7 linked regions of the Homo sapiens genome follow. The protein of the gene in region 6 purifies or fractionates together with the protein of the main gene of each other region. This does not show direct contact. Each region holds a gene or a part of one and is shown on either strand. Other genes may lie near its edges.

The links.
Region 1: the proteins of PPM1E (region 6) and UQCRC2 purify together in Homo sapiens (affinity purification with mass spectrometry; one large-scale study listed by BioGRID and IntAct). This does not show direct contact.
Region 2: the proteins of PPM1E (region 6) and COX4I1 purify together in Homo sapiens (affinity purification with mass spectrometry; one large-scale study listed by BioGRID and IntAct). This does not show direct contact.
Region 3: the proteins of PPM1E (region 6) and DNAJA3 purify together in Homo sapiens (affinity purification with mass spectrometry; one large-scale study listed by BioGRID and IntAct). This does not show direct contact.
Region 4: the proteins of PPM1E (region 6) and PSMG4 purify together in Homo sapiens (affinity purification with mass spectrometry; 2 studies listed by BioGRID and IntAct, with this or other methods). This does not show direct contact.
Region 5: the proteins of PPM1E (region 6) and SERPINB4 purify together in Homo sapiens (affinity purification with mass spectrometry; 2 studies listed by BioGRID and IntAct, with this or other methods). This does not show direct contact.
Region 7: the proteins of PPM1E (region 6) and STX17 purify together in Homo sapiens (affinity purification with mass spectrometry; one large-scale study listed by BioGRID and IntAct). This does not show direct contact.

What each region holds. Positions count from the first base shown.
Region 1 is NC_000016.10:21,959,861-21,963,360, reverse strand, and holds part of UQCRC2 (cytochrome b-c1 complex subunit 2, mitochondrial precursor), read right to left. Parts: intron 902-3,500; coding exon 845-901; intron 601-844; coding exon 476-600; intron 1-475. UniProt on the Homo sapiens protein: Component of the ubiquinol-cytochrome c oxidoreductase, a multisubunit transmembrane complex that is part of the mitochondrial electron transport chain which drives oxidative phosphorylation.
Region 2 is NC_000016.10:85,802,695-85,805,131, reverse strand, and holds part of COX4I1 (cytochrome c oxidase subunit 4 isoform 1, mitochondrial isoform 1 precursor), read right to left. Parts: intron 196-2,437; coding exon 28-195; coding exon of another isoform or gene 1-27. UniProt on the Homo sapiens protein: Component of the cytochrome c oxidase, the last enzyme in the mitochondrial electron transport chain which drives oxidative phosphorylation.
Region 3 is NC_000016.10:4,446,368-4,449,867, forward strand, and holds part of DNAJA3 (dnaJ homolog subfamily A member 3, mitochondrial), read left to right. Parts: intron 1-518; coding exon 519-647; intron 648-2,365; coding exon 2,366-2,481; intron 2,482-3,500. UniProt on the Homo sapiens protein: Modulates apoptotic signal transduction or effector structures within the mitochondrial matrix. Affect cytochrome C release from the mitochondria and caspase 3 activation, but not caspase 8 activation.
Region 4 is NC_000006.12:3,261,947-3,265,247, forward strand, and holds part of PSMG4 (proteasome assembly chaperone 4), read left to right. Parts: intron 1-1,737; coding exon 1,738-1,813; coding exon of another isoform or gene 1,814-1,878; exon of another isoform or gene 1,879-2,227; coding exon of another isoform or gene 2,228-2,379; exon of another isoform or gene 2,380-3,301. UniProt on the Homo sapiens protein: Chaperone protein which promotes assembly of the 20S proteasome.
Region 5 is NC_000018.10:63,639,008-63,641,256, forward strand, and holds part of SERPINB4 (serpin B4), read right to left. Parts: intron 1,985-2,249; coding exon 1,867-1,984; intron 770-1,866; coding exon 627-769; intron 334-626; coding exon 178-333; intron 1-177. UniProt on the Homo sapiens protein: May act as a protease inhibitor to modulate the host immune response against tumor cells.
Region 6 is NC_000017.11:58,754,727-58,758,653, reverse strand, and holds the start of PPM1E (protein phosphatase 1E), read right to left. Parts: upstream 2,801-3,927; 5' UTR 2,657-2,800; coding exon 2,193-2,656; intron 1-2,192. UniProt on the Homo sapiens protein: Protein phosphatase that inactivates multifunctional CaM kinases such as CAMK4 and CAMK2. Dephosphorylates and inactivates PAK. May play a role in the inhibition of actin fiber stress breakdown and in morphological changes driven by TNK2/CDC42.
Region 7 is NC_000009.12:99,909,654-99,913,153, reverse strand, and holds part of STX17 (syntaxin-17), read right to left. Parts: intron 999-3,500; exon of another isoform or gene 1-998. UniProt on the Homo sapiens protein: SNAREs, soluble N-ethylmaleimide-sensitive factor-attachment protein receptors, are essential proteins for fusion of cellular membranes.

The sequences.
Region 1 (3,500 bases), on a different chromosome or scaffold from region 6:
AATAATAAATCTAAATAACAAATTTTTGAAAAAGATATTTTCAAATTCAAGGAGTAAAACATTTGGCCAGGCATGGTGGCTCACACCTGTAACACCAGCACTTTGGGAGGCTGAGGTGGGTGGATCACTTGAGGCCAGGAATTCAAGACTGAACTCCAGTCTGACCAACATGGCAAAACCCTGTTTCTACTAAAAATACAAAAAATTAGCCAGGTGTGGTGGTGCACACCTATAATTCCAGCTGCTCAGGAGGCTGAGGCAGGAGAATTGCTTGAACCCGGGAGCTGGAGGTTGCAGTGAGCCAAGATCGTGCCACTGCACTCCAGCCTGGGTGACAGAGTGAGACTCTGTCTCAAAACAATAAATAAATAAAAATAAAAATAAAAATTTTGACAGCAATTTTTTTTCTTCTATAAATTGATCTTCTAAAAAACCCAGTATCTTAGAATCAAATGTGATCTGGAAATGTACTTACGAGTCTGCGGATTCTGAAAGGCCACAGCTTTGTCAATCTTTAGCTGAGGCTGAAGGTCAGCTACTTCCCAACGACGAAATTCTGGTGCTGTGGTGACATTGAGCAGGAACTCCATTAGAATATCACTACAGAAGACATCGAGATAAGAATTATGAGTCAAAAATGTAAAGCCAACATTTGAGATTCTACATAGCTGTAATGCTCTCAATGTGAAACTTTAGGTCTTGTGGTAAGCAGTGTTTTTGAGCAGTTTATGAACAATAATCCAAAATGGAAGTCAGAGGTCATAATGACGCATTACAAAGACCAGAAGTGAGCAGCTTAGTATTTCTTTCAAAGCAGAAGTCCTAAACACACACAGGTACTTACACATCACCCCGCAGGCATTCCACAGTATAAGCCATGTTTTCCCTTGTTGCGGTCACACTGAATCGGAAAATAAACTAGAGTAAATCATCTGAATCAGGATAGTAAGCTTTCCCTTATAATCTTCTATCAACCAATTCCTTTGGAAAGAAAATTTCTGAAGTATAAAAGGTGCGAACAATAATATAACAAAACTCCACATATTAACCAACTAAAATTCAAAATTTTTTTAAAAACCAGCAAATAATTCAACCTTAAAAGGAGTGAAATCTGGTCACATGTTACAACACAGATGAACCCTGAGGACATTATGCTAAGGATAATAAGCCAGTCACAAAGGGACAAATATTGTATGATTCTACTTATGAGGTACCTGGAGTAGTCAAATTTGTAGAGACTGAAAAGAGAATGGCAGTTGCCAAAGGCTGAGGGGAGGGGAGAATGAGCAGCCATTGTTTAACAGGTACAGAATTTCAGGTGGGAGAAGATAGAAAAGTTCCGGAGCTGAATGTTGGTGATGGTTGCTGAATGCCACTTAACTGCACACTTAAGAAAATGATAAATTTGGGCCGGGCGCAGTGGCTCACACCTGTAATCCCAGCACTTTGGGAGGCCGAGGTGGGCGGATCACTTGAGGTCAGGAGTTTGAGACCAGCCTGGCCAACAGGGTGAAACCATGGTCTCTACTGAAAATACAAAAATTAGCCAAGCATGGTGGCGCACGCCTGTAATCCCAGCTACCACGGAGGCTGAGGCAGGAGAATCGCTTGAACCCAAGAGGCGGAGGTTACAGTGAGCCAAGATCATGCCACTGCACTCCAGCCTGGGCGACACAGCGAGACTGTCTAAAATATATATATATATATATATATATATATATATATATATATATAAATTTTATGTTATATACATTTGACCACAATTTTTTAAAATGGCAAATAAAGTTGAAGATCTTTTCGTACCCTTCCAAGACCAATTCCCTCACTCTCTCCCACTCTGGAAACCACAATCATAAGCACTACATAGTATTTTTCTGCTTAAAAAATTAAAATACCTTAAAGAAATCTTGAAACTTGCTTGTTCACACTCTATTTTGCCCTTCAGTTGTGCTATGTTGACGTATGGATCTAGTTCATTCCGTAATGGCTGTATAGTGGTCTCATCATGACTCTGTCATACTTTACCCATTTCCCTAAAGATGGACACTTAGATCGTTTCCAGTCTTTATAAAGAATACCTTTGTGAATGTGATTAAAAACTGTGGGGTTTTTCAATATTACCAGATATTCCTTGATTCTTTCCTAAGTGGTTGTATCAATTTATACTCCTATCAGCAGAATGAGACATTCTCTATCATCTTTACCACTGACAACACAATATATAAAAAATCTGGGCTGGGTGCAGTGGCTCACATCTGCAATCCCAGCATGCTGGGCTGAGGTGAGAGGATCACCTGAGGCCAGGAGTTCAAGACCAGTCTGGGCAACATAGTGAGACCTCCATTTGTACAAAAAATAAAAAATTAGCCAGGCATGGAGTCATGTGCCTATAGTCCTAGCTACTTGGGAAGCGGAGGGAGAAGAATCGCTTGGGCCCAGGAGTTCAAGGCTGCAATAAGGTATGTCTGCACCACTCCACTCCAGCCTGGGAAACAGAGCAAGACCCTGTCTTTAATATAAATTAATTAAAAAAAAAGAAATGCTGTTTCTGTCCTGAGTGTTCCACTGACCAGCTGCTCCCCAAGTCTTTCTCCCTCTCTTTGGATATTCCTACTCCTGAGACACAACAATATTGAAATTAAGCTAATGAATAACCCGACAATGGCCCCTAAGTATACAAGTGAAAGGAAGAGTCTCATGTCTCTCACTTTAAATCAGAAGCTAGAAAGGATTAAGCTTCTAAGGAAGTCAGGAAGGCATGTTAAAAACGGATACAGGTCAAAAGCTAGGCCTCTTGCACCAGTGCAGTTCTTGAAGAAAACTAATAGTGCTACTCCACTGAACACATAAATGATATGAAAGCAAGACAGACTTATTGCTGATAATACAGAGTTTTACTGGTCTGGATTAGATCAAACTGTATTCCCTTAAGTCAAAGCTTAATCCAGAGCAATGCCCTAACTCTCTTCAATTATATGAAGGCTGAGAGAGGTGAGATGCAGAAGAAAAGTCTGAAGCTAGCCGTGGTTAGTTCATGAGCTTTAAGGAAAGAAGCCATCTTCTTAATATAATAGTACACAGTGAAGCAGCAAATGCTAATATAGAAGCTGCAGCACGTTATCCAGAAGATCTACATAAGATCATCGATGAAGGTGGCTACACTAAACCACAGATTTTCAATGCTGACAAAACAGCCTTACATTGGAAGATGCCGTCCAGGACATTCGTAGCTAGAGAAGTCAATGCCTGGCGTCAAAGCTTCAAACGACAAGCTGACTCTTGTTGGGGACTAATGCAGCTGGTGACTTTAGGATGAGGTCATTTACCATTCTCAAAATCCTAGAGCCCTTAGGAATTATGCTAAATCTACTCTGCCTATGCTCTGTAAATGAACAAAAAAGCCTGGATGATAGTACATCTGTTTATAGCATGGTTGACTGAATATTTTAAGCCCATTGCTCAGAAAAAAGATTCCTTTCAAATTATTACTGCAACAATGC
Region 2 (2,437 bases), on a different chromosome or scaffold from region 6:
GCGCCTGTGGGTCCCTTCAATACCCACACTCGACTTTCTCATCCATGGAGAGGCTGCTCCAGGAGGCCTTCTCCTTCTCCTTCAATGCCTTCTGGCTGGCAGACAGGTGCTTGACATGGGCCACCTCCGGCAAGGGGTGGTCACGCCGATCCATATAAGCTGGGAGCGAAAAGTCTTCGCTCTTCACAACACTTTCTGAAAAACATATTGAATAAATCTTTGAAAATCCATGTAAGTTGAGAGTCACCCCAAGGTGATACTTCTGAAAACCGAAACACAGACATGTGCACGCCTTGAAACCCTGGATCATCTCAGGGGGTCACAGCCACTGTTTAAACAGTTGCAGGAGTGTGGTGGAGGGGGAACAGAAGCACTTCTCATCACAGCCAACAAAAACCCACCAGGGGCAACTGCTAATGAACCCTGGGGCCAAGGTGCCCAGAGGCAGCACTTCCTACATTAACAGTTACCTGCAGGGCTGGGCGCGGTGGCTCACACCTGTAATCCCAGCACTTTGGGAGGCCCAGGCAGGCGGATCACGATGTCAGGAGATCGAGACCATCCTGGCTAACATGGTGAAACCCCGTCTCTACTAAAAATACAAAAAATTAGCCGGGCGTGGCGGCACGTGCCTATAGTCCCAGCTACTCGGAAGGCTGAGGCAGGAGAATCGCTTGAACGCAGGAGGCGGAGGTTGCAGTGAGCTGAGATCGCACCGCTGCACTCCAGCCTGGTGACAGAGCGAGACTTCGTCTCAAAATAAAAAAATAAAAATAAAAAAACCAGTTACCTGCAGACGTGGGCCAAGGCCCTCAGGGCTCCCTGAACAGGTGACTGGACAAAATGAAAGCCTATCTGCAAGGGACTCAAACTAATGAGGAAGAACAAAAACAATAAAAAACTCAAAGCGTTTCAAGTTCAGAAACAAAGACACGTGAGAAGATAACCACAACAGCACTGTTCCAGGGAACCTGTGTCCAACCAGGACTGAGTGAGAAATCGTGCTAGCTCTTAGAAACGAGGATCATGGAGCCATTCATTCAGAGCACATTTACCAAGCACCCTCTACAGGCAAGGCAGGGTTCTAGAGATCTGGGATCATCAGTGAACAAATCAAACATTCCTGCCTAGTGGCACACTTCTAGAAGTGGAAAACAAACAATAAACATAACAAATGTGCAAATCACATGTTTGGAAAAAGTACTCTGGAGAAAGAGTAGAGCAGCGGGGCATCAGGAATGTGTGGATGGCACGAAACAAGGGGCAACGTCCACAGGACGAGGCCGACCTAGGAGCCCAAATGCAGAGGAAGCGTGCACTCAGGAGTCACAGAGCACGGGCAGTATCGTGCGCTTCTCCTTTCTGGAAATCACGTGCACATACTCACATACGCGTAACGAAACGCACAAAACAGACAAGGCAAGCCACAAACTGTTATACAGGTAGGAAGGAGGAAGATCTGAGTGAGGATTTCTGCTCTATCTGCTTCTGTTATTTTAGTGCCTTCAAAGCAGCAGGTATCACATGGAAAAAAGTTCAGAAATCAGAAAGGTAAGGAATAGCTTGGTTGTACTGAGAGTCTTCCCACTGTTAGAAGCTGTTTCTCCAATTCTGTCCTATGTCTGCAAGAACTCTTTGTATTACACACTGGTCTGGAGGTACAATGCCCGCAACAATGCTTCAACTCCATTAGCTCAGTCCCAGTGACTAAAATCACCCAAATCATGTGAACAGTAAATCAACATTCAGCTTTAAGCAAGTCGTATATAGACTTCTCTAGATGTTTCTCTTAGCCGTGCAAATGACTGGCATACTTACAAACTTATACTTGACACCTCATCCCAAAACTGAGCTGGGATTTGAGGGACAGGAGATGGAAATGGCCTAAATTACTTTCTAATTTTAAAACCCTAATTCTATGAAAATGATGAGTGAACTATAAAGAACACTTGTATACTGAATATTTTTATCAAGTTCAGCACCCCCCAGAAGTCTCTAAAGTTTAAAACACTCAGCTTACACATGAGAGTTATTAAAAATAAATGTAAATATGGGTGATGAGAATGTTCTAGAACTGACTGTGGTGCTAATGACAAAACTCAATGAATATACTAAAAACCACTGGAGCATACACTTTAAATGGGTGACTGTTATATGAATTACATCTTGTAAAGCTGTTGTAAATGCCATGACAGGGAGACTGGGGGGAAAAAGCTATTATAACGACGTAAACCCTCAAAACCTTGGCGCATGCAAACCTCAAAATTGCATCTTCCAGAATAAGAATGGCCAATTCATGGTTTCAGGGGTTCTTCAGAGCTTCAGGCCTGGTCCCCCAGCAATTAAGGGAAAATCAATGGTTAATATACCAAACATTTCTTTTAGAGAGAGAGAAAAACAAAGACTCCAGATTGTAAGGAATGTTTGTCACCGCTTC
Region 3 (3,500 bases), on a different chromosome or scaffold from region 6:
TGAGTAGCTGGGATTACAGGGGCCCGCCACCACACCTGGTTAATTTTTGTATTTTTAGTAGAGACAAGGTTTCACCATGTTGGTCAGTCTGGTCTCAAACTCCTGACCTCAGGTGATCCACTCACCTTGGCCTCCCAAAGTGCTGGGATTACAGGTGTGTGCCACTGTGCCTGGCTAAAGTAAGATTAAAAAAAAAAAATCAAAAGCCAGTTTTACATTTTTGTTTCCCTTCACGATTGAATGGCTTGATCTGAGACTGAGGAAATCCAGGCACGCTTCCATTTCGGCATTTCAAGTGTGTAGAACATTGCAGTGTTGAAATATGTAGAACATGTCATTCCTGGGCCTGGGATGGTGTCTCCTTGTTGGAAGGACAGTTCTTTCCCTCAACACTGCACTTTATGTATGGAAGGGGTGTGTAGTTTGTCAGGTCTGAGCTTGGGCCTGGCCAGGCATGCAGCTGGTGTTTAGTCTGCAGTGGACTTATCTTCACATGCATCTGTCATGTTTGGCCTTAGGTGCAGAAAAGCCCTGTGTTCCGGAGGGACGGCGCAGACATCCACTCCGACCTCTTTATTTCTATAGCTCAGGCTCTTCTTGGGGGTACAGCCAGAGCCCAGGGCCTGTACGAGACGATCAACGTGACGGTAAGAGGGTGTGAGAACACCTTTGTCACCCCTGTACTTTATTGCTCTTTTTCTGAAATGGAAAAGAACTGACCAGTGGCCTGGAACCCATGAGTGACCAGCATGTGGGGGGGCACTCACAGGGGAGGACATGAGGAATTTTAGGCTGCTCCTTGAGTGTGGACCACAAGCCACAGGCCTTGAGTCTATAATCGCATGGGAAGCAGTTCCTGGCTGGCATCACTCCCACACTGGTTAGCGGGGCCTGGGAACTGGGCGCATTCAGGACACAGAAGGGTTCACCCTGGGTTGTGCTCTCTGCACTTGCTTCTGTCCAGTGTCTGGCTCCAAGAGCAGAAGACTCGGGCGGTGCATATCCCTTTTGCCACAGTGATGGCTGCCTGTGTGCTGCCAGCACCTGTCCCCCACCTCTCTCTTGACCTGCCCCTCCAGCTCTTCCCACCTCCAGGCCACATCATTCTCTGTATTCGCCTCAGAACCTTCTCCAGCTTCTTTGTGGGGAACCTTGGGGTAACCTCCATGAAGGAGGTGGGCATTTTGGGCCAAGGCTTTCTCCTCCATCTGGGGGCTATTCCCTGGCTTCTCCAGGGTCCTGTGGTTCCAAGGGCCAGGGAGCGACCTCAGCCACGCACCCTGTATTGGCTTTTCCTGCTTTGCTCCCTCACTCCTGCTTCCTGGGCTCACTTGCCCAAACTCTTGCCCCCTCATCCTAGTCACAGGCTCTGCTCTGGGCAGACCCAACTTAGCTCATTTCCATGTGCTTGTGGGCGGGCTTGGCCCAGAAACCCAAGTGGTGGTTCTTTTTTTTTTTTTGAGATGGAGTCTCGCTTTGTCGTCAGGTGCACGCCACCACACCTGGCTAATTTTTTGTATTTTAGTAGAGACAGGGTTTCACCGTATTTCCCAGGCTGGTCTTCAACTCCTGATCTCAGGCAGTTCACCCGCCTCGGCCTCCCAAAGTGCTGGGATTAAAAGGCGTGAGCCACTGCGCCCAGCCCAGTGGCAGTTCTTTTTTTTTTTTTTTTTTTTTTTTGAGACAGAGTCTTGCTCTGTCGCCAGGCTGGAGTGCAGTAGCGCGATCTTGGCTCGTGGCAATCTCCGCCTCCCAGGTTCAAGCGATTCCCACCTCAGCCTCCTGAGTACCTGGGCCTACAAGCACGCGCCACCATGCCTGGCTAATTTTTTGTATTTTAGTAGCGATGGGGTTTCACCATGTTGGCCAGGAAGGTCTCAATCACCTGACCTCGTGATCTGCCTGCCTCAGCCCCCCAAAGTGCTGGGATTACAGGCATGAGCCACTGCGCCCGGCCTTTTTTTTTACCCACCCCCTCCACCACCGCTCTGCCGAGACAGAGTCTTGCTCTGTCAGCCAGAGCTGGAGTGCAATGGCACAATCTTGGCTCACTGCAACCTCCGCCTCCCGGGTTCAAGCAATTCTCCTACCTCAGCCTCCTGAGTAGCTGAGATTACAGGTGCACGTTACCATGCCCTGCTGATTTTTGTATTTTTAGTAGAGACGGGGTTTCATCATGTTGGCCAGGCAGGTCTTGAACTCCTGACCTCGTGATCAGCCTGCCTCGACCTCCCAAAGTGATGGGAGCGTGAGCCAGTGGTAGTTCTTTTCAAGGAATTCCTATCAAGATTGTCTTCATGTAGTGAAAACTTTTTATTTGAGCAACTGGGGACCAGGGGAAACCACAGATTTTCTTTCTTTATAGATCCCCCCTGGGACTCAGACAGACCAGAAGATTCGGATGGGTGGGAAAGGCATCCCCCGGATTAACAGCTACGGCTACGGAGACCACTACATCCACATCAAGATACGAGTTCCAAAGTAAGTGCCCCCTAGGCTGTGGCCAAGCCCGCCTGGTCCTGCGGTGGCACTGCCCTTGGAGCTCTGTGGCTTGGGCAGGTTACTGCTCCCTGTAAGTCAGGTGGTTCCTGCCCGAGTTATCTGTCTGTAAAGTGGACATAGTAGAATGGTCAACTTCTTTTTTTTTGAGATGGAGTCTCGCTGTGTCCCCCAGGCTGGAGTGCAGTGGCGCCATCTCGGCTCACTGCAACCTCCGCTTCCCAGGTTCAAGCGATTCTCCTGCCTCAGCCTCCCGAGTAGCTGGGATTACAGGTGCCTGCCACCATGCCCGGCTAATTTTTTGTATTTTTAGTAGAGATGGGGTTTCACCGTGTTAGCCAGAGTGGCCTCAATCTCCTGACCTAGTGATCCACCCACCTTGGCCTCCCAAAGTGTTGGGATTACAGGCGTGAGCCACCATGCCCGGCCAGAATGGTCGACTTCTTGGAGTTGTTGGGAGAATTAAATGAACAACACATAGGAATTGCTTTGCTGCTGCTGCTATTGTTGATTTTCTTCTTTTTTTTTTGAGAAGGAATCTGTCACTGTGTTGCCCAGGCTGGAATGTGGTGGTGCCATTTCAGCTCACTGCAACCTCCTCCTCCCCAGTTCAAATGATTCTCCTGCCTCAGCCTCCCGAGTAGCTGGGACTACAGGCGCTTACCACCACGCCCAGCTAATTTTTGTATTTTTAGTAGAGACGGAGTTTCACTGGCCAGGCTAATCTCGAACTCCTGACCTCAGGTGATCTGCCCACCTTGACTTCCCAAAGTGGTGGGATTACAGGTGTGAGCCAGCACGCCTGGCCCGTTGCTTTTCTTGTTGATGTTACTAGCACTGTTAGGAGCTGGAGAGGTGGCCTGGGCAGAGTGCTGTGGGTACCTAGGGCGGGACATGCCTGACTCCCCTCGGGAGCACTCATGCTTTTTGTTAATTAGATAATTTCTTTTTTTTTTTTTGAGATGGTGTCTAGCTCTGTCTCTAGGTGGAGTTCAGTGGTG
Region 4 (3,301 bases), on a different chromosome or scaffold from region 6:
GGCACCAGACGGTCTGTGAGGTCTCTTCCCTCCAGCTTCCCTAAACTCCCACATGTGAGACTGTAGAGAACAGACACCATGCAACCCGGAGCTGGCTGACCTTGGGTTGAGCAGGGATTTTTGGTGCCCAGAGAGGCTGCAGGACTAGTGACACTGAGTCCTACCAGCTTGAGGGAAGCTGGCCTGGGACCTGGGCCCGTGCCTGCTCAGGGATTCTTGGACCCCCCGCCCGGCCTCTAGGAGTGGAAGGTGGTGCTTCAGCTGCAGCAGAACTCCCTGGGCATCTGCTGGGAGACCACAGTCCTAGTGTGATGTCGGAAGTAATGAACTATTAAGGGTGACACGATGGGGCTTTACATTTAACTTTTGGTAGAAAAAGGCCACCCTGGGTAAGGTAGATTTTCTTTTTTCTAGAAGGTTTAACTGTACATACTATTACCATGCAGCTAAATGTTGAACTTGAGGAATCTGTAAACAGCAGGCTCATTAAGATATTTTTGTATCGTTTTTAGTGAAGAAGCATACAGTAAATGCTTTCATTCTTCTCCTGTGTTTTTTGATCTCCTGCCTTTTATTGTCTTTTGTGGAAGTGGCTTTGAACCTTTAGGAGATGAGCAGCGCCTGTGGTCTCTGCCCTGCCATACTGTCTGGCACACAGTAGCTGTTTGTTCAGTTAACTTGTCCCCACCAGGACAGTTGGGGTGGCAGGGGAACCAAACCCCAAAGTCTCTGTACCTCTAAAAACCTTGCCACTTTCCAAGATTCTCAGACCTCTGTAGCCAGGCTGCTTCTCCTAGAAATCTGCTATTTTGATAAAAGCAATTTTGGCCATATTACCAATAAGTGTTTTTTTTTTCCCCCTTTGGAAGCTAGACCTTCTTACTTTATTTTTTTATTATTATTTTTAATAAAAATGTAGAGACAGATCTTACTTCATTGTCCAGGCTGGTCTCAAACTCCTGGTCTCAAGCAGTCCTCCCTCCACAGGCTCCCAAAGTGCTGGGATTCTGGGACTAGCTAGACATTGTTAATGGTGAGAGATTACTCCCAAAGTAGTTGGGAGCAGTTACTCCCACATCGCCGGAGGGCCCATTTGTTGATCTGAGAATCATTTGTACTGCTTGTTTCACCTTACTGCTTCTTGTCTGAAATGAGGTTGGCCAAGCATGTTCAGAAGTTATTTTCCCTATTTAGATGCTGGTGGCTGGTGCCCTTTGTATCAAAGTCACAAGGCACTCGCTGACCCTGAGGAGCCCACAGGGGCTGGAGCAGCATGCTCCCTCACAGGCTGAGATGAGGAGATTAGGCATCCTGCCTCTGAGCCAGCTGCTGTGGGGCACGAGGCACCAGTGCACAGGTGCCCCGACTGTGAGTCACTTTCTTCTTGCTGTAGCCTTAATGATCTTGTTTGCTTCCCTTTTGGTTGTGGTGTTGCCCTTCAGCATGCTTTGGAGTTTGAGACACTAAAACGAGCCTTTCGTGTGAAACTGGTCCTAGAACTTAGTAGCACTGTGGTTCCAGCTTCATCTTTCCCAACTCCGCTGACCTCATATGCGACATGGGGTCCACCTACTTGGTTGTTGACGGACGCCACCCCTCTTTCCCTCGGCACCTGTGCCTGTCCTCTCTGAACCTGCCACTGCCATCGTCGTGAAGAATCAGAAGCCCGGAAGCCAGAAGTGTGGCTGGCCTGCGGGGGGTGGAGAAGCTGCAGTGTGCCCTTTGCTTTTCTTTTAGGACTCCATCCCCGTGTCTACCTCCCTCCTTGGAGACACTTCCGACACGACCTCTACTGGCCTTGCCCAGCGCCTAGGTATGTACCCACAGCTGGCGCTGCATGGCCAGCCAGGTGGGGCCCACTCTTTAATGGAACCATGAAGCAAGTCCCTTCGGAAGTAAAGCATCTTTATGCTAAGAACCATCACCTCATTGCTGCTGGGAAGCACAGACCTTTGCACGTTGGGTCTTATTTAAGGGGCACATTCCATGCTCGCCTGTCATCACCACCGTCCCAGGGCTGGCCTGTTCCCAAAGGACTCCCACCTCGTCCTTGGGTGTGTCCTTGAGTCCATGAGCTGATTTAGTTGCCTTCCGTAAGTGCATCACCACCTCCTGGGAGGAGAGCATGAGAAGTGCCCACAGCCCCTGTGGGTGGTGGCTCAAGGTAGCCTCCCGGGCCTTAGGAGGAGTCAGTGCAGCTGGTGGAGCAGGTGTCACCTCTGTGCAGGAAGGACTGTCCTCACTCAGTGTGATACCGTTCAGGGCTCGGAGGGAAGACTGGCCTGGCCTGTGAGTGTGGCGTAGAGTGGGGATTAAGCAAAGGTCATGAGGCTGAATGCTCCACTCTTCCCACACCCCAACACACTTCCTGTGGGCCAGGTAAGGCTTCCATGTGCTCTGCGACCCCCAGCCCCAGTGCCTGTGGCCAGTGTGCACAGGATGCCTGTCTCCTGCCCAGGCCTGGCGTTCTCCAGTAGGCCCAGCTGCTTCTGCTCTGGAGTCTTCTCTGTGTCTCAGGCACAGGACCTGGTACCTGACAAGCAGGAACCTCTGTGTCAGTCACACTGAGGCAAATGCACACGAATAGCATGGCACCTGGCCCAGGGGGAAGGCAGGGCAGGGTGGAGTGTCACCAGCAGGCCCATGACAGTATGTGGATAGGACAGAGGTCAGGGAGGGCACAGGTCAGCATTTCAGGAACTCGCAGTATTCTTTTTCCCTCCCTTGGAGGTGGGGACCTGACTTGTAAGTTAATTTGGTAATTTTTAACTAGGAAGTAAATTTAAAATTTACAGAAAAGTTGCAAAGAAGATAGAATTCCTGCTTAGCTTTTGCCCCAATTTCCCACTTGCCACCCTTCCCTCTTTGTGTTTGTATCTTTTTTTTTCTGAGCCACATGAAAGTAAAGCTGCCTTTTGTGTCTGTGTCACTCTGTGTGTGTGACTGTGTAAGGGGTAGCACACTTACATGGAACAGGTTACTGCGTGTGGGAGAAGGCTCAGGAAGGTATTCATATTTATACAGACGGAAAGCTGGGTGGGGTTGCGGACACACTCCCATAGAGAAGGTGGTGTGAGCTTGTCTGGCAGGCCGTGAATAACTTTCATATCAATAAGGTAAATTAGTCTCCAGAATATTTGCGAGATGGAGGCCTAGTATCTATATGCAAAAAAGAGGGGTTCTCAGTATCTCGACTGTCTCAACAAGTCACGGGTGTGCCGTGGCTTCCGGCGTCTCTTAAGGGAATGGTGCTGCAGAGCTCGGACCAAGAAGGTTTTCCAGCAAAGTCCCATGCTTTGCC
Region 5 (2,249 bases), on a different chromosome or scaffold from region 6:
GTTTGTGTCAGGCCCTATGCTCAAATATTTGTAATATGAAGGTGAGTCATCATTCCTCATTTAGAATTTTTCATCATTTTGAGGCAACTCGGTCATAAGCTTTTACCTTGTTTAAACTTGGTATCTTTGGAAAAATGTCCGGCAGTAGAAGGAAGAGTTGTAGATGCAAGTTCTTACCTTCTGCAGACCATCGATTTCATTTGGCAGCAGCACAATCATGCTTAGATCTTTGCCTTTGTATGGTATTTCCAGGACCTTGGCCTGTACATCCTCCAGCAAGGCAAAATTAAAGGAATTGTATTGCCTCATCATCTGTACAGATTTGTATGTATTCTGCAATAAATCAATGTGTCCAACAAATAACACGTGAAACACAAGACAAAAAAGATAATATTATTGAGATAGCAACACATCCTTCTTCTTCTAAGAAATAACCCAGGAATTCCATGAGTTAGAAACAATAGTTTTTCAGGTATTCCTAACTAAATAAAGTTATAAGAGTAAAACAACAAAATAACAGACATGAACAATTTTTATTTTTTACTTATCATGTTACATTCCATCAGAAATGTTTAACATTCCATGTATTAACATATTACACTATATAAATAAAATATAGACAATACCTTGTTTGGCCAAAATTTTTCCTCTTTAGTGTTTTCTTTTTTAAATTTATTCTCCCACTGCCCTTTGAAATAGATTGCGTTCACAAGAACCAGTGTCGTATCATTGCCAATAGTCCCATCAGGAAATAGGTTTTTAATTTTTTCTGCAAGGGAAAGAATAAAAGAGTCTTTTACACAAGCTACAAATGGCTTGTCTGGAAGATGCTTTGCAAATGTTCGTGACTGATCGTTAATTATTGACCCAAATCCCTGCTTGAGACTCACTGACTTTGATCTTTGAATTGTTAGACTCACTGACCAGTGGTTCACCAGATGCAGCTTTCTTCAAGGCTCCAGTCGTATAAAGTTACCCTTGATGGAGACATCACTTCTTGTGATAGAGAAGGAGTTCACGTTCTCTGTGTATGAATGTCTCCAATCATCTGATTTGGAATACTGATAAACTGATTTTGTCTACTCTTCCAACATGTGTCTTTCCTTTCTCCCTCCCTCCTCTTCCTACTTTTATTTTTTTTTAACTACGGGGTCCCCATTCAGAGGAAGGAGGCCCTGATTGCATTTTAGGATGAGTGACTTGAGCTCTGTAATATGAAACGCATGTCCTGTGCTGTCAGACACTACTTCCGGGGGTATCTTCCTATTCACTCTCATGTTGAGTTGCTGTAAGTTTGGCCTGTAATGAGAGGTGGGAGGTAAGAAAGATGTCTGTAGAATGGAGACTTTGTCAAGCTCTTTGCCCTTGATGGGGAAGAGAGCTGTGATAATCCCTGCAGAACACATTGGCTACAGATGTGATCCAGGCAGCTCCAGCTCAGAGACAAAAGGGTGATTTACCAGAGAGCTGCTTGTTTCCCAATTAGTAAAGGAGACGAGAGACGCTTTCTAATGTTTTCTATTAAATATTCATCATAAAAATTTGAGTCTGATTTAAAGTAAAGGATATGATCTCAAAATAGGCCTGAGCGGAGACAGGGGATCCACAAAGCTATTGTCATGCAGGGCCATAAGCAAATAATTCTCCAGATGTGTTTCCATCTAATTGGCTTCCTGTGATTTCCTCCTTGGCTCCCCTAGGCTCTCTTCATATTCATTTGGACAAATCCTTCATCTGGAGTGCCCTCTTCAGCCCTCCCTGCAAACCCATCTCAATCCCCACACCTGTTCCCCCATGCAGTGTCAAGCACAAGGCTCACTGGCATAGGTTTCTCAAAGGTGTTTCTATAATGGGTGGCTCTCCTACCATTCGTTTGACTTTCCACCCAGGAGTTAATCTTCTTTCGACTTTCTTCTGGAGCATTTGCAAAATCAGTAGATTCCACACTGGTCTGGTAAAATTTCTTGATGGCATCTAAATATTCCTTTGAGATATGAAGGAAGAAGTAGGAATTAGGAGTAATTTATGTAACTATATATTACCAAACTTACTTATTTGTAACAACAGTAAGCTGAATCCAGACCCTGAATAGATGCAGTATCTCCTGTCCATGGATATTTTTATACAGGTGTCATGTAGGCAATGCAAAAGGGGAATGTGGGCTGGCACAAGAAAGAGGTCACTGAAGGTCAATATCATCTTGGCAAAAGGCAGAAGCAGAAGAGGCTGTGGTTTGCAAACTGCAGAGC
Region 6 (3,927 bases):
TTCCAACTTTAATTTTGCTAGTTTTATTTCAAATCCAAACTTCTGTTCTCAACTAGATGGCCATTTTATCATTTCAGTTTTTTCTAGTTTATACCTATATCAAAATTAATCTTTTTTTTTTTTTTTGAGACGGAGTCTTGCTCTGTCACCCAGGCTGGAGTGCACTGGCACAATCTCAGCTCACTGCAACCTCTGCCTCTCGGGTTCAAGCGATTCTCCTGCCTCAGCCTCCTGAGTATCTGGGATTACAGGCGCGCGACACCACGCCCAGCTAATTTTTGTATTTTTAGTAGAGACGCAGTTTCACCACGTTGGTCAGGCTGGTCTCGAACTCCTGACCTCATGATCTGCCACCCCGGCCTCCCAAAGAGCTGGGATTACGGGAGTGAGCTACCGCTCCTGGCCGCTTCTATATGAAAAAACACACATCTTCTTGCCATCATCTTTAAATAAGTTAAAAAAAAAAAACCTTCTTACATGGCAAATGTTCAGGGTTGTACTAAAATAATGACCTTATTTGGACACTTTCTAAAGTTTGAATTGGTTTAATTCTGCAAACTGCATTTGTAAAGGTAAGAATTAACTGTCAAGATAGAGCCAGTCTGCTGCTAAGATAAATTCCCTTAATAAACATTTCCATTTTATTTTAAGCAGGGAGCTTTATCTTTAAATACTGTAAAAAATTACATCTCAGAAGCCCTTGTCTATGATAGTTCACAAAGACCAGATATACTCTAAAATGTTAATACTGTTTATCTCTGGGTGGTGGTATTACACGCCATTTTATATTTTACGTTTCTCAAAAAGCATCATTACCTTGCTAATTGACGGTAATACTGTAATTGAACAGTATTTTAAAATTAAATTTTAGATAGCTTATATTATGAAATACCAACACAGTCCACTTCTATGGAAGATTTGTTAAATGATTTTCCCCTATTGATAAACTGCTGCTTTAACAGGAGAATGATCTGATCAGGTGTCTATTAGCTTGGATGAAGACAAAACAGGTTTACTTTCCAGGCCCTTCTTTTCTTTAGGCTTTTGAGAAAATCCCAAAAGTGAGTTTGAACTTAATTACAGCGAATCTTGCAGTAGTAAACTTTTTGGGTGGCCAGAGTAACACCTTTCATTACAACTATCAGCTGAATGGCAAAAGACTTCCCAGGTTTACCAATGTTTTCAGAGACTTACTAGTATTCTCCTCTGTCATTATTTCGGAACAATTCCATTGAGAAACGCAATTGTAAACCGTTTCTATTTCAGGCCTATAAAAACCAGAACTGGGATGAAAGGCAAAGCCTTGACCTTTCTATTTTAGACTTTCATCTGTGTAGCTAAGCCATCTGCTTTCTCCCCACCCCATCCCATCTACTTAATGGACTGAAAATACTGCACCTAATTGCAATTTAATCAAAACAGCCTGACTTTTCCACTTTAATGAATTATGGCTCTTTCACCCGAAGGCTTGCTTGCAAAATTTTGCTTACCCTTCCCTCTCAATTCCTTCCCACTTCCCTCAATTATGGAATGTCAAATGTCTAAACTAAGAGACTAGGCTTCCCTGTGTGAAAACATCTAAAAAGCCCTTCACTTTCAACACTGAGCACCTGACGGAAAATCTACTCCATTCTCTCATCTGGATACGGGGCCGGTATAACCATCATTGTTGCAGTTACGCAGGAGGCACCTCGCAGCTCAGTCTAGAAAGGAGTCGCGTCTCTGCCGCCAAACAACAAGGCACTCAGCCCGGGAAAAGACAGACTGGGGTGGGAGGAAACCTCCCGGAGAAAGAAGGGATCTGGGAAGAAGAGGGAGCTCAAGCCTGGGAGGAAGGACCTTTCCAGGCAGGAAAGGGAAAGGTTGCGTGAAGTGGAGCTAGAAGCTGGGGGCCGAGGTGAAAGGGGATGAGGGGCCCGGGCCCGGCGGGAGGGCGCCGGGGCTCAGGAGAGCGGCTTCAAGGCCGGGTAGGAGGCGTGGGGGCCGAGGCGGGCGTGGGGGCCGAGGCGGGCGTGGGCAGCTCTCAGCCGACCGCCCGGGTCCGAGCAGCGGGGGCGCTTTCAGCGGCGGCAGGCGCGGGTGCGGGGGAGAGGAGCAGAAAAGAGAGCAGTTTGAGGGGCCGAGGGAGCCGCGTCCGAGGCCGGCGCGGTGGGGACCGCGGGCCCACCACCAGCCAAGCCCAGCTACTTAACTATTTGTAGAGCTGCTGCAGGCACAGGTCCAGGCTTTCGCCCTCCACCTCCTCGCGGGTGATGCGCTCTGACAGCGGTCGCGGGAGCGGGGGCAAAGGCGGCAGCTGGGGCGGCGGCGGCGGCACGGCCGAGTGCCCCGGGGCTGCCGCCGCCGTCGCCGCGCCCTCCTCCTCCTCCTCACCCTCAACCGCCGCCTCCTCCTCGGGCTCCGGGTCTTGCTCCTGGTCCCCCTCCTCCGTCGCGGCTACCGTGGCCGCCTCCTCCCCGGGTTCCTCTACCGAAGCCTCGGCCGCCTCAGCTTCTACCAGTTCAGGTTCGGGCTCGGGCTCGGACTCGGGTTCGGGTTCGGGTTCGGGTTCGGGTTCCGGCTCCGGCTCGCCGCCGCCGCACGGTCCGCGAAACTCGCCCAGGAATAGCTCCAGGAAGCGCCGGTAAGTTTTCTCCTCAGGGATGCAGCCGGCCATCGCTGCTCATGCCCCAGGGCAGACCGGGAAAGGGGTTGGGGGAAGCCCAGGAAGGGTAAGGGGCTGCTTTTGAGCCTAGGGCTCCGGCAAGGGCGGTTAACGGCCGCACCGGCACGAGCGATCAGCACTAGGTTGCCTGGAGAGGGCTCCCGCAGGCGTGCGCGCCGCCGAGCACCGACGTGCGCGGCCCGGGGGCGGAGCGCGCCGCCCCTCTCGGATCTGGAGGGAAAGTTGGTGGCGGGCGCGCGCAGGGTCCAGCGGCGGCCCACCCTTTATTCCTACGGAGAGCTCAGCCCACGCTGCCTAGAGACTGTCGCCATGGCAACCGGTTCTAATTAAGCATTGCAGGGTCCCTCCCGTCGAGTCCGCGGAGTCTAAAGGACACTCCACTCGCCCGCTCTCCAACTCTGAATGTCTTTATTGGTTGGATACCCTACCCTCACGTGGTTAAGAGTGAGCTAAGACATCTCCAAGTCTAGCTGTTGGTTCCCACTTGGGTTGCTTGGATCCCAATTGGATGTACTTCCATTTCCTTATCTGTTCCTTGCCTTAGCGTATGTTTTGAAAGATACCACACTGTGAACACCTTTTGTTGCAGTCTTTGAATAAGTAGTTTTCAGGCAGAGGGAGCTTCAAATACCTACCAAGTGATAAGTTCCTTTGCATAGGTTCTCTCTCACTTGATTCTGTGAAGAAAGTGGTGTTACTCTCATTTCTTAAAAGGAAACTGAAAATTATGATATTAATGGTAATTTACTTGTTTCAAGGTCTCCAAACTTCCAGCCTTGGCGTTGGAGAACTCAGGTCGTTCAGTCGCCAAAGCTTTCCGAAAGTGCATTTTTCCTTAACTCAACTCTGTCTCCGGAGATTCAATAGTGCAATTGTCTGTATAACACCTTATTTCTATTGGGCTTCATAGTTTACACATTGATTTCACCCTTTTAATTCTTACCACAGTCCCTTGAGGTATAGGACGTTACCGTTATGATTTTTTTTTTTTTGAGACAATCTCGCTCTTGTCACCCAGGCTGGAGTGCAGTGGCGCGATCTCAGCTCACTGCAACCTCCGCCTCTCGGGTTCAAGTGATTCTCCTGCGTCAGCCTCCCAAGTAGCTGGGATTACAGGGGCCTGCCACCACCCCCGGCTAACTTTTGTATTTTTAGTAGAGACGGGGTTTCACCATATTGGCCAGGCTGGTCTCAAACTCCTGACCTCAGGTGATCTGCCTGCCTCAGCCTCCCAAAGTGCTGGGATTACAGGTGTGACCCAC
Region 7 (3,500 bases), on a different chromosome or scaffold from region 6:
GAAGGGAAATTGCAAAACATTAAAGAACAAGAATCATTAAAAAAATGAGACATAAAAGACTGACAAAGCAATAATATATTGCTTTTAAAAGCAAGATATTAAAAGACAGAAATACCTTCAAAGTGCTGAGAGAGTTGGTATATTCCCAGGTAAATTATCATTTAAAATGAAAGCAAAATAATCATTTTCAGACATACAAGGACTAAGAGAGTTTATTACCAAGCCCCTCATTAAAAGTACTTAAAGGAATATTTCAACAATAAAGAAAATAAACCCAAAGGAGTGGAATAGCAAGGAGCAATGAATAGAATAAACTGTTAACGGATAGAATAAATGGGTGGATGAAAGAACAAAGAAAATAAAACATTTATTTTGAATAGTGTGATGAAGTATAATAAAAATGTTTCCATGTAAATAATTTTCTATAATTACGTAGATGCTTCACAATTTTACAAATTGGCTATTATTGGCTATTTAGGTTGTTTCTAATTTTCCACTATTATAAACTACAGTGTAATTACCCTGCTTACACATAAATCCATACTGCTGCCTATAATTATTTCTTTAAAACAATCAACAAAGACACAACCTGTATAAAGGGAGAAAATATTTGCCAACTAGTCATCCAACAAGGGACTAATATCTAGAATGTATGAGAAACTCAAACAACTCAACAGCAAAGAAACAAATAGTTCCATTAAAAAGTGGGCAAAGAATCTGAATAGACATTTCTCAAAAGAAGACATACAAATGACCAAAAGGTATTTTTTTTAATGCTCAACATCATTAATCATCAGGGAAATGCAAATAAAAACCACAATGAGATACCATCTCACCCCAGTTACAATAGCTATCACCAAACGGATAAAAAATAACAAATGCTGGTGAGGATGTAGCAAAAGAGGCCTCTTTTTTTTTTTTTCTTTTTAGATAGATTTTCGCTCTTGTCACCCAGGCTGGAGTGCAGTGGCACGAGCTCAGCTTACTGCAACCTCTGCCTCCCGGGTTCAAGCAGTTCTCCTGCCTCAGCCTCCTGAGTAGCTGGGATTACAGGCACATGCCACCACGCCCAGCTAATTTTTTGTTTTTAGTAGAGACGGGATTTTGCCATGTTGGCCAAGCTGGTCTCGAACTCCTGACCTCAGGTGATCCACCTGCCTCGGCCTCCCAAAGTGCCGGGATTACAGGCGTGAGCCACGACGCCTGGCGAGAAAGAGGACTCTTATACACTGTTGGTGGGAATGTAAATTAGTACAGCCATTATGAAAAACAGTATGGGCTGGGTACGCTGGCTCATAGCTGTAATTCCAGCACTTTGGAAGGCTGAAGCAGGAGGATCACTTGAGGCCAAGAGTTTGAGGGCAGCCTGGGCAACATAGCAAGATCCTTCTTCTCTGAAAAATTTAAAAATTAGCTGGGTGTGGTGGTGGGTGCCTGTAGTCCCAGTGACACCAAGGTGGGAAGATCCCTTGAGCCCTAAAGTGTGAGCCTGCAAGAAACAGTGTTCTTACTACTACACTACAGCCTAGGCAACACAGTGAGATCCTGTCTCAAAAAAAGAAAGAAAAACTGTACAGAGGCTTCTCAAAAAATTAAAAATAAAACTACCATATGATCCAGCAATCCCACTACTGGGTATTTATCCAAAGGAAAAAAAATCAGTATATCAAAGAGATACCTACAGCCCCATGTTTATTGCAGCAGCATTCACAATAGCCAAGATATGGAATCAACCTAAGTGTCTGTCAATGGATGACTGGATAAAGAAAATGTGGTGTATATACACAATGAAATACCGTTCAGCCATTAAAAAAAAGAATGGGTCAGGCGCGATGGCTCATGCCTATAATCCCAGCACTTTGGGAGGTGGAGGCGGGCCGATCAGGTCAGGAGATCGAGACCATCCTGGCTAACATGGTGAAACCCCGTCTCTACTAAAAAATACAAAAAATTAGCCAGGCGTGGTGGCATGCACCTGTATTCCCAGCTGCTCCGGAGGCTGAGGCAGGAGAATCGCTTGAACCCAGGAGGCGGAGGTTGCGGTGAACCCAGATCTCACCACTGCACTCCAGCTTGGGCAACAGAGCGAGACTCCGTCTAGGGAGAAAAAAAAAAAAAAGAATGAAATCCTGTCATTTACAACAACATGGATGGAACATCTAGCCTGTACTCCCAGCTACTCAGGAAGCCGAGGTAGGAGGATCACTTGAGCCCAGAAATTAGAAGCCAGCCTGGGCAATATAATGAGACCTCCATTTCTAAATAAAAAGGGGGAAAAAAGTTGATCTCCTGGAGGTAGAGAGTAGAGTGATGGGAAGGGGCAGGAGGGGTGAAGAGAAGTTGATTAATGGGTACAAACATACAGTTAGATAGAAGGAATACATTATTCATGTTTAATAACACAGTGAGGTAGCTATAGTTAACAATAATTTATTGCATATTTCAAAATAGCTAGAAGATCTGAAGTGCTCCTAACACAAAGAAATAATAAATGTTTGACATGATATATATCCCAAATACCCTGATTTGATCATTACACATTGTATGTATGTATCAAAACATCACATGTATCCTATAAATATGTAAAATTATTGTGTATTAATTGAAAAAAGTAACATAAAAATAAAAAATAAATATCTAGAAATAGAATTATTAGGTAGACAGATTTTTCAAGGTTTTTAAAACATATATATAGCCATATCCCACAAAAGGTTATGCCTATTATGTTCCTACCAGAAACATAACACAATGTCCATTTATCCATATTCCAAGCAATATACTTAGTATTATCATTCTTAGACATGTCATTGGTGAAAAAAATGATGTCTCATTATTGCTTTACTTTGCATTCCTTAAATTACTAACAGGGTGGATTTATCAGCCATTTGCATTTCTTTTTTTTTTTTCTTTTTTTTTGTTTTGAGACGGAGTCTCACTCTTTTGCCCAGGCTGGAGTGAAGTGGTGCGATCTCAGCTCACTGCAACCTCCGCCCCTTAGGTTCAAGTGACTCTCCTGCCTCAGCCTCCCAAGTAGCTGGGATTACAGGCACGTGCCACCACGCCCAGCTAATTTTTGTATTTTTAGTAGAGACGGGGTTTCACCATGTTGGCCAGGCTGGTCTCGAACTCCCGACCTCAGGTGATCCACCTGCCTCGGCCTCCCAAAGTGCTAGGATTACAAGTGTGAGGCACCATGCCCAGCTGCATTTCTTCTTTTTTTAATTTTTAATTTTTGTGGGTATATATTAGTAGTAGGTATATATTTATGGGATATTTGAGTTATTTTGATACAGGCATACAATGTGTAATAATCACATTAGGGTAAATGAGGTATCCATCACCTCAAGCATTTATTCTTTGTGTTGCAAACAATCCAGTTATACTCTTTTAGTTATTTTTAAATATACAATTGAATTATTATAGTCACCCTGTTCGGCTATCAAGTACTATATTTTATTCATCCTCTATCACTATTTTTTTGTACTCATTGCATTTCTTCT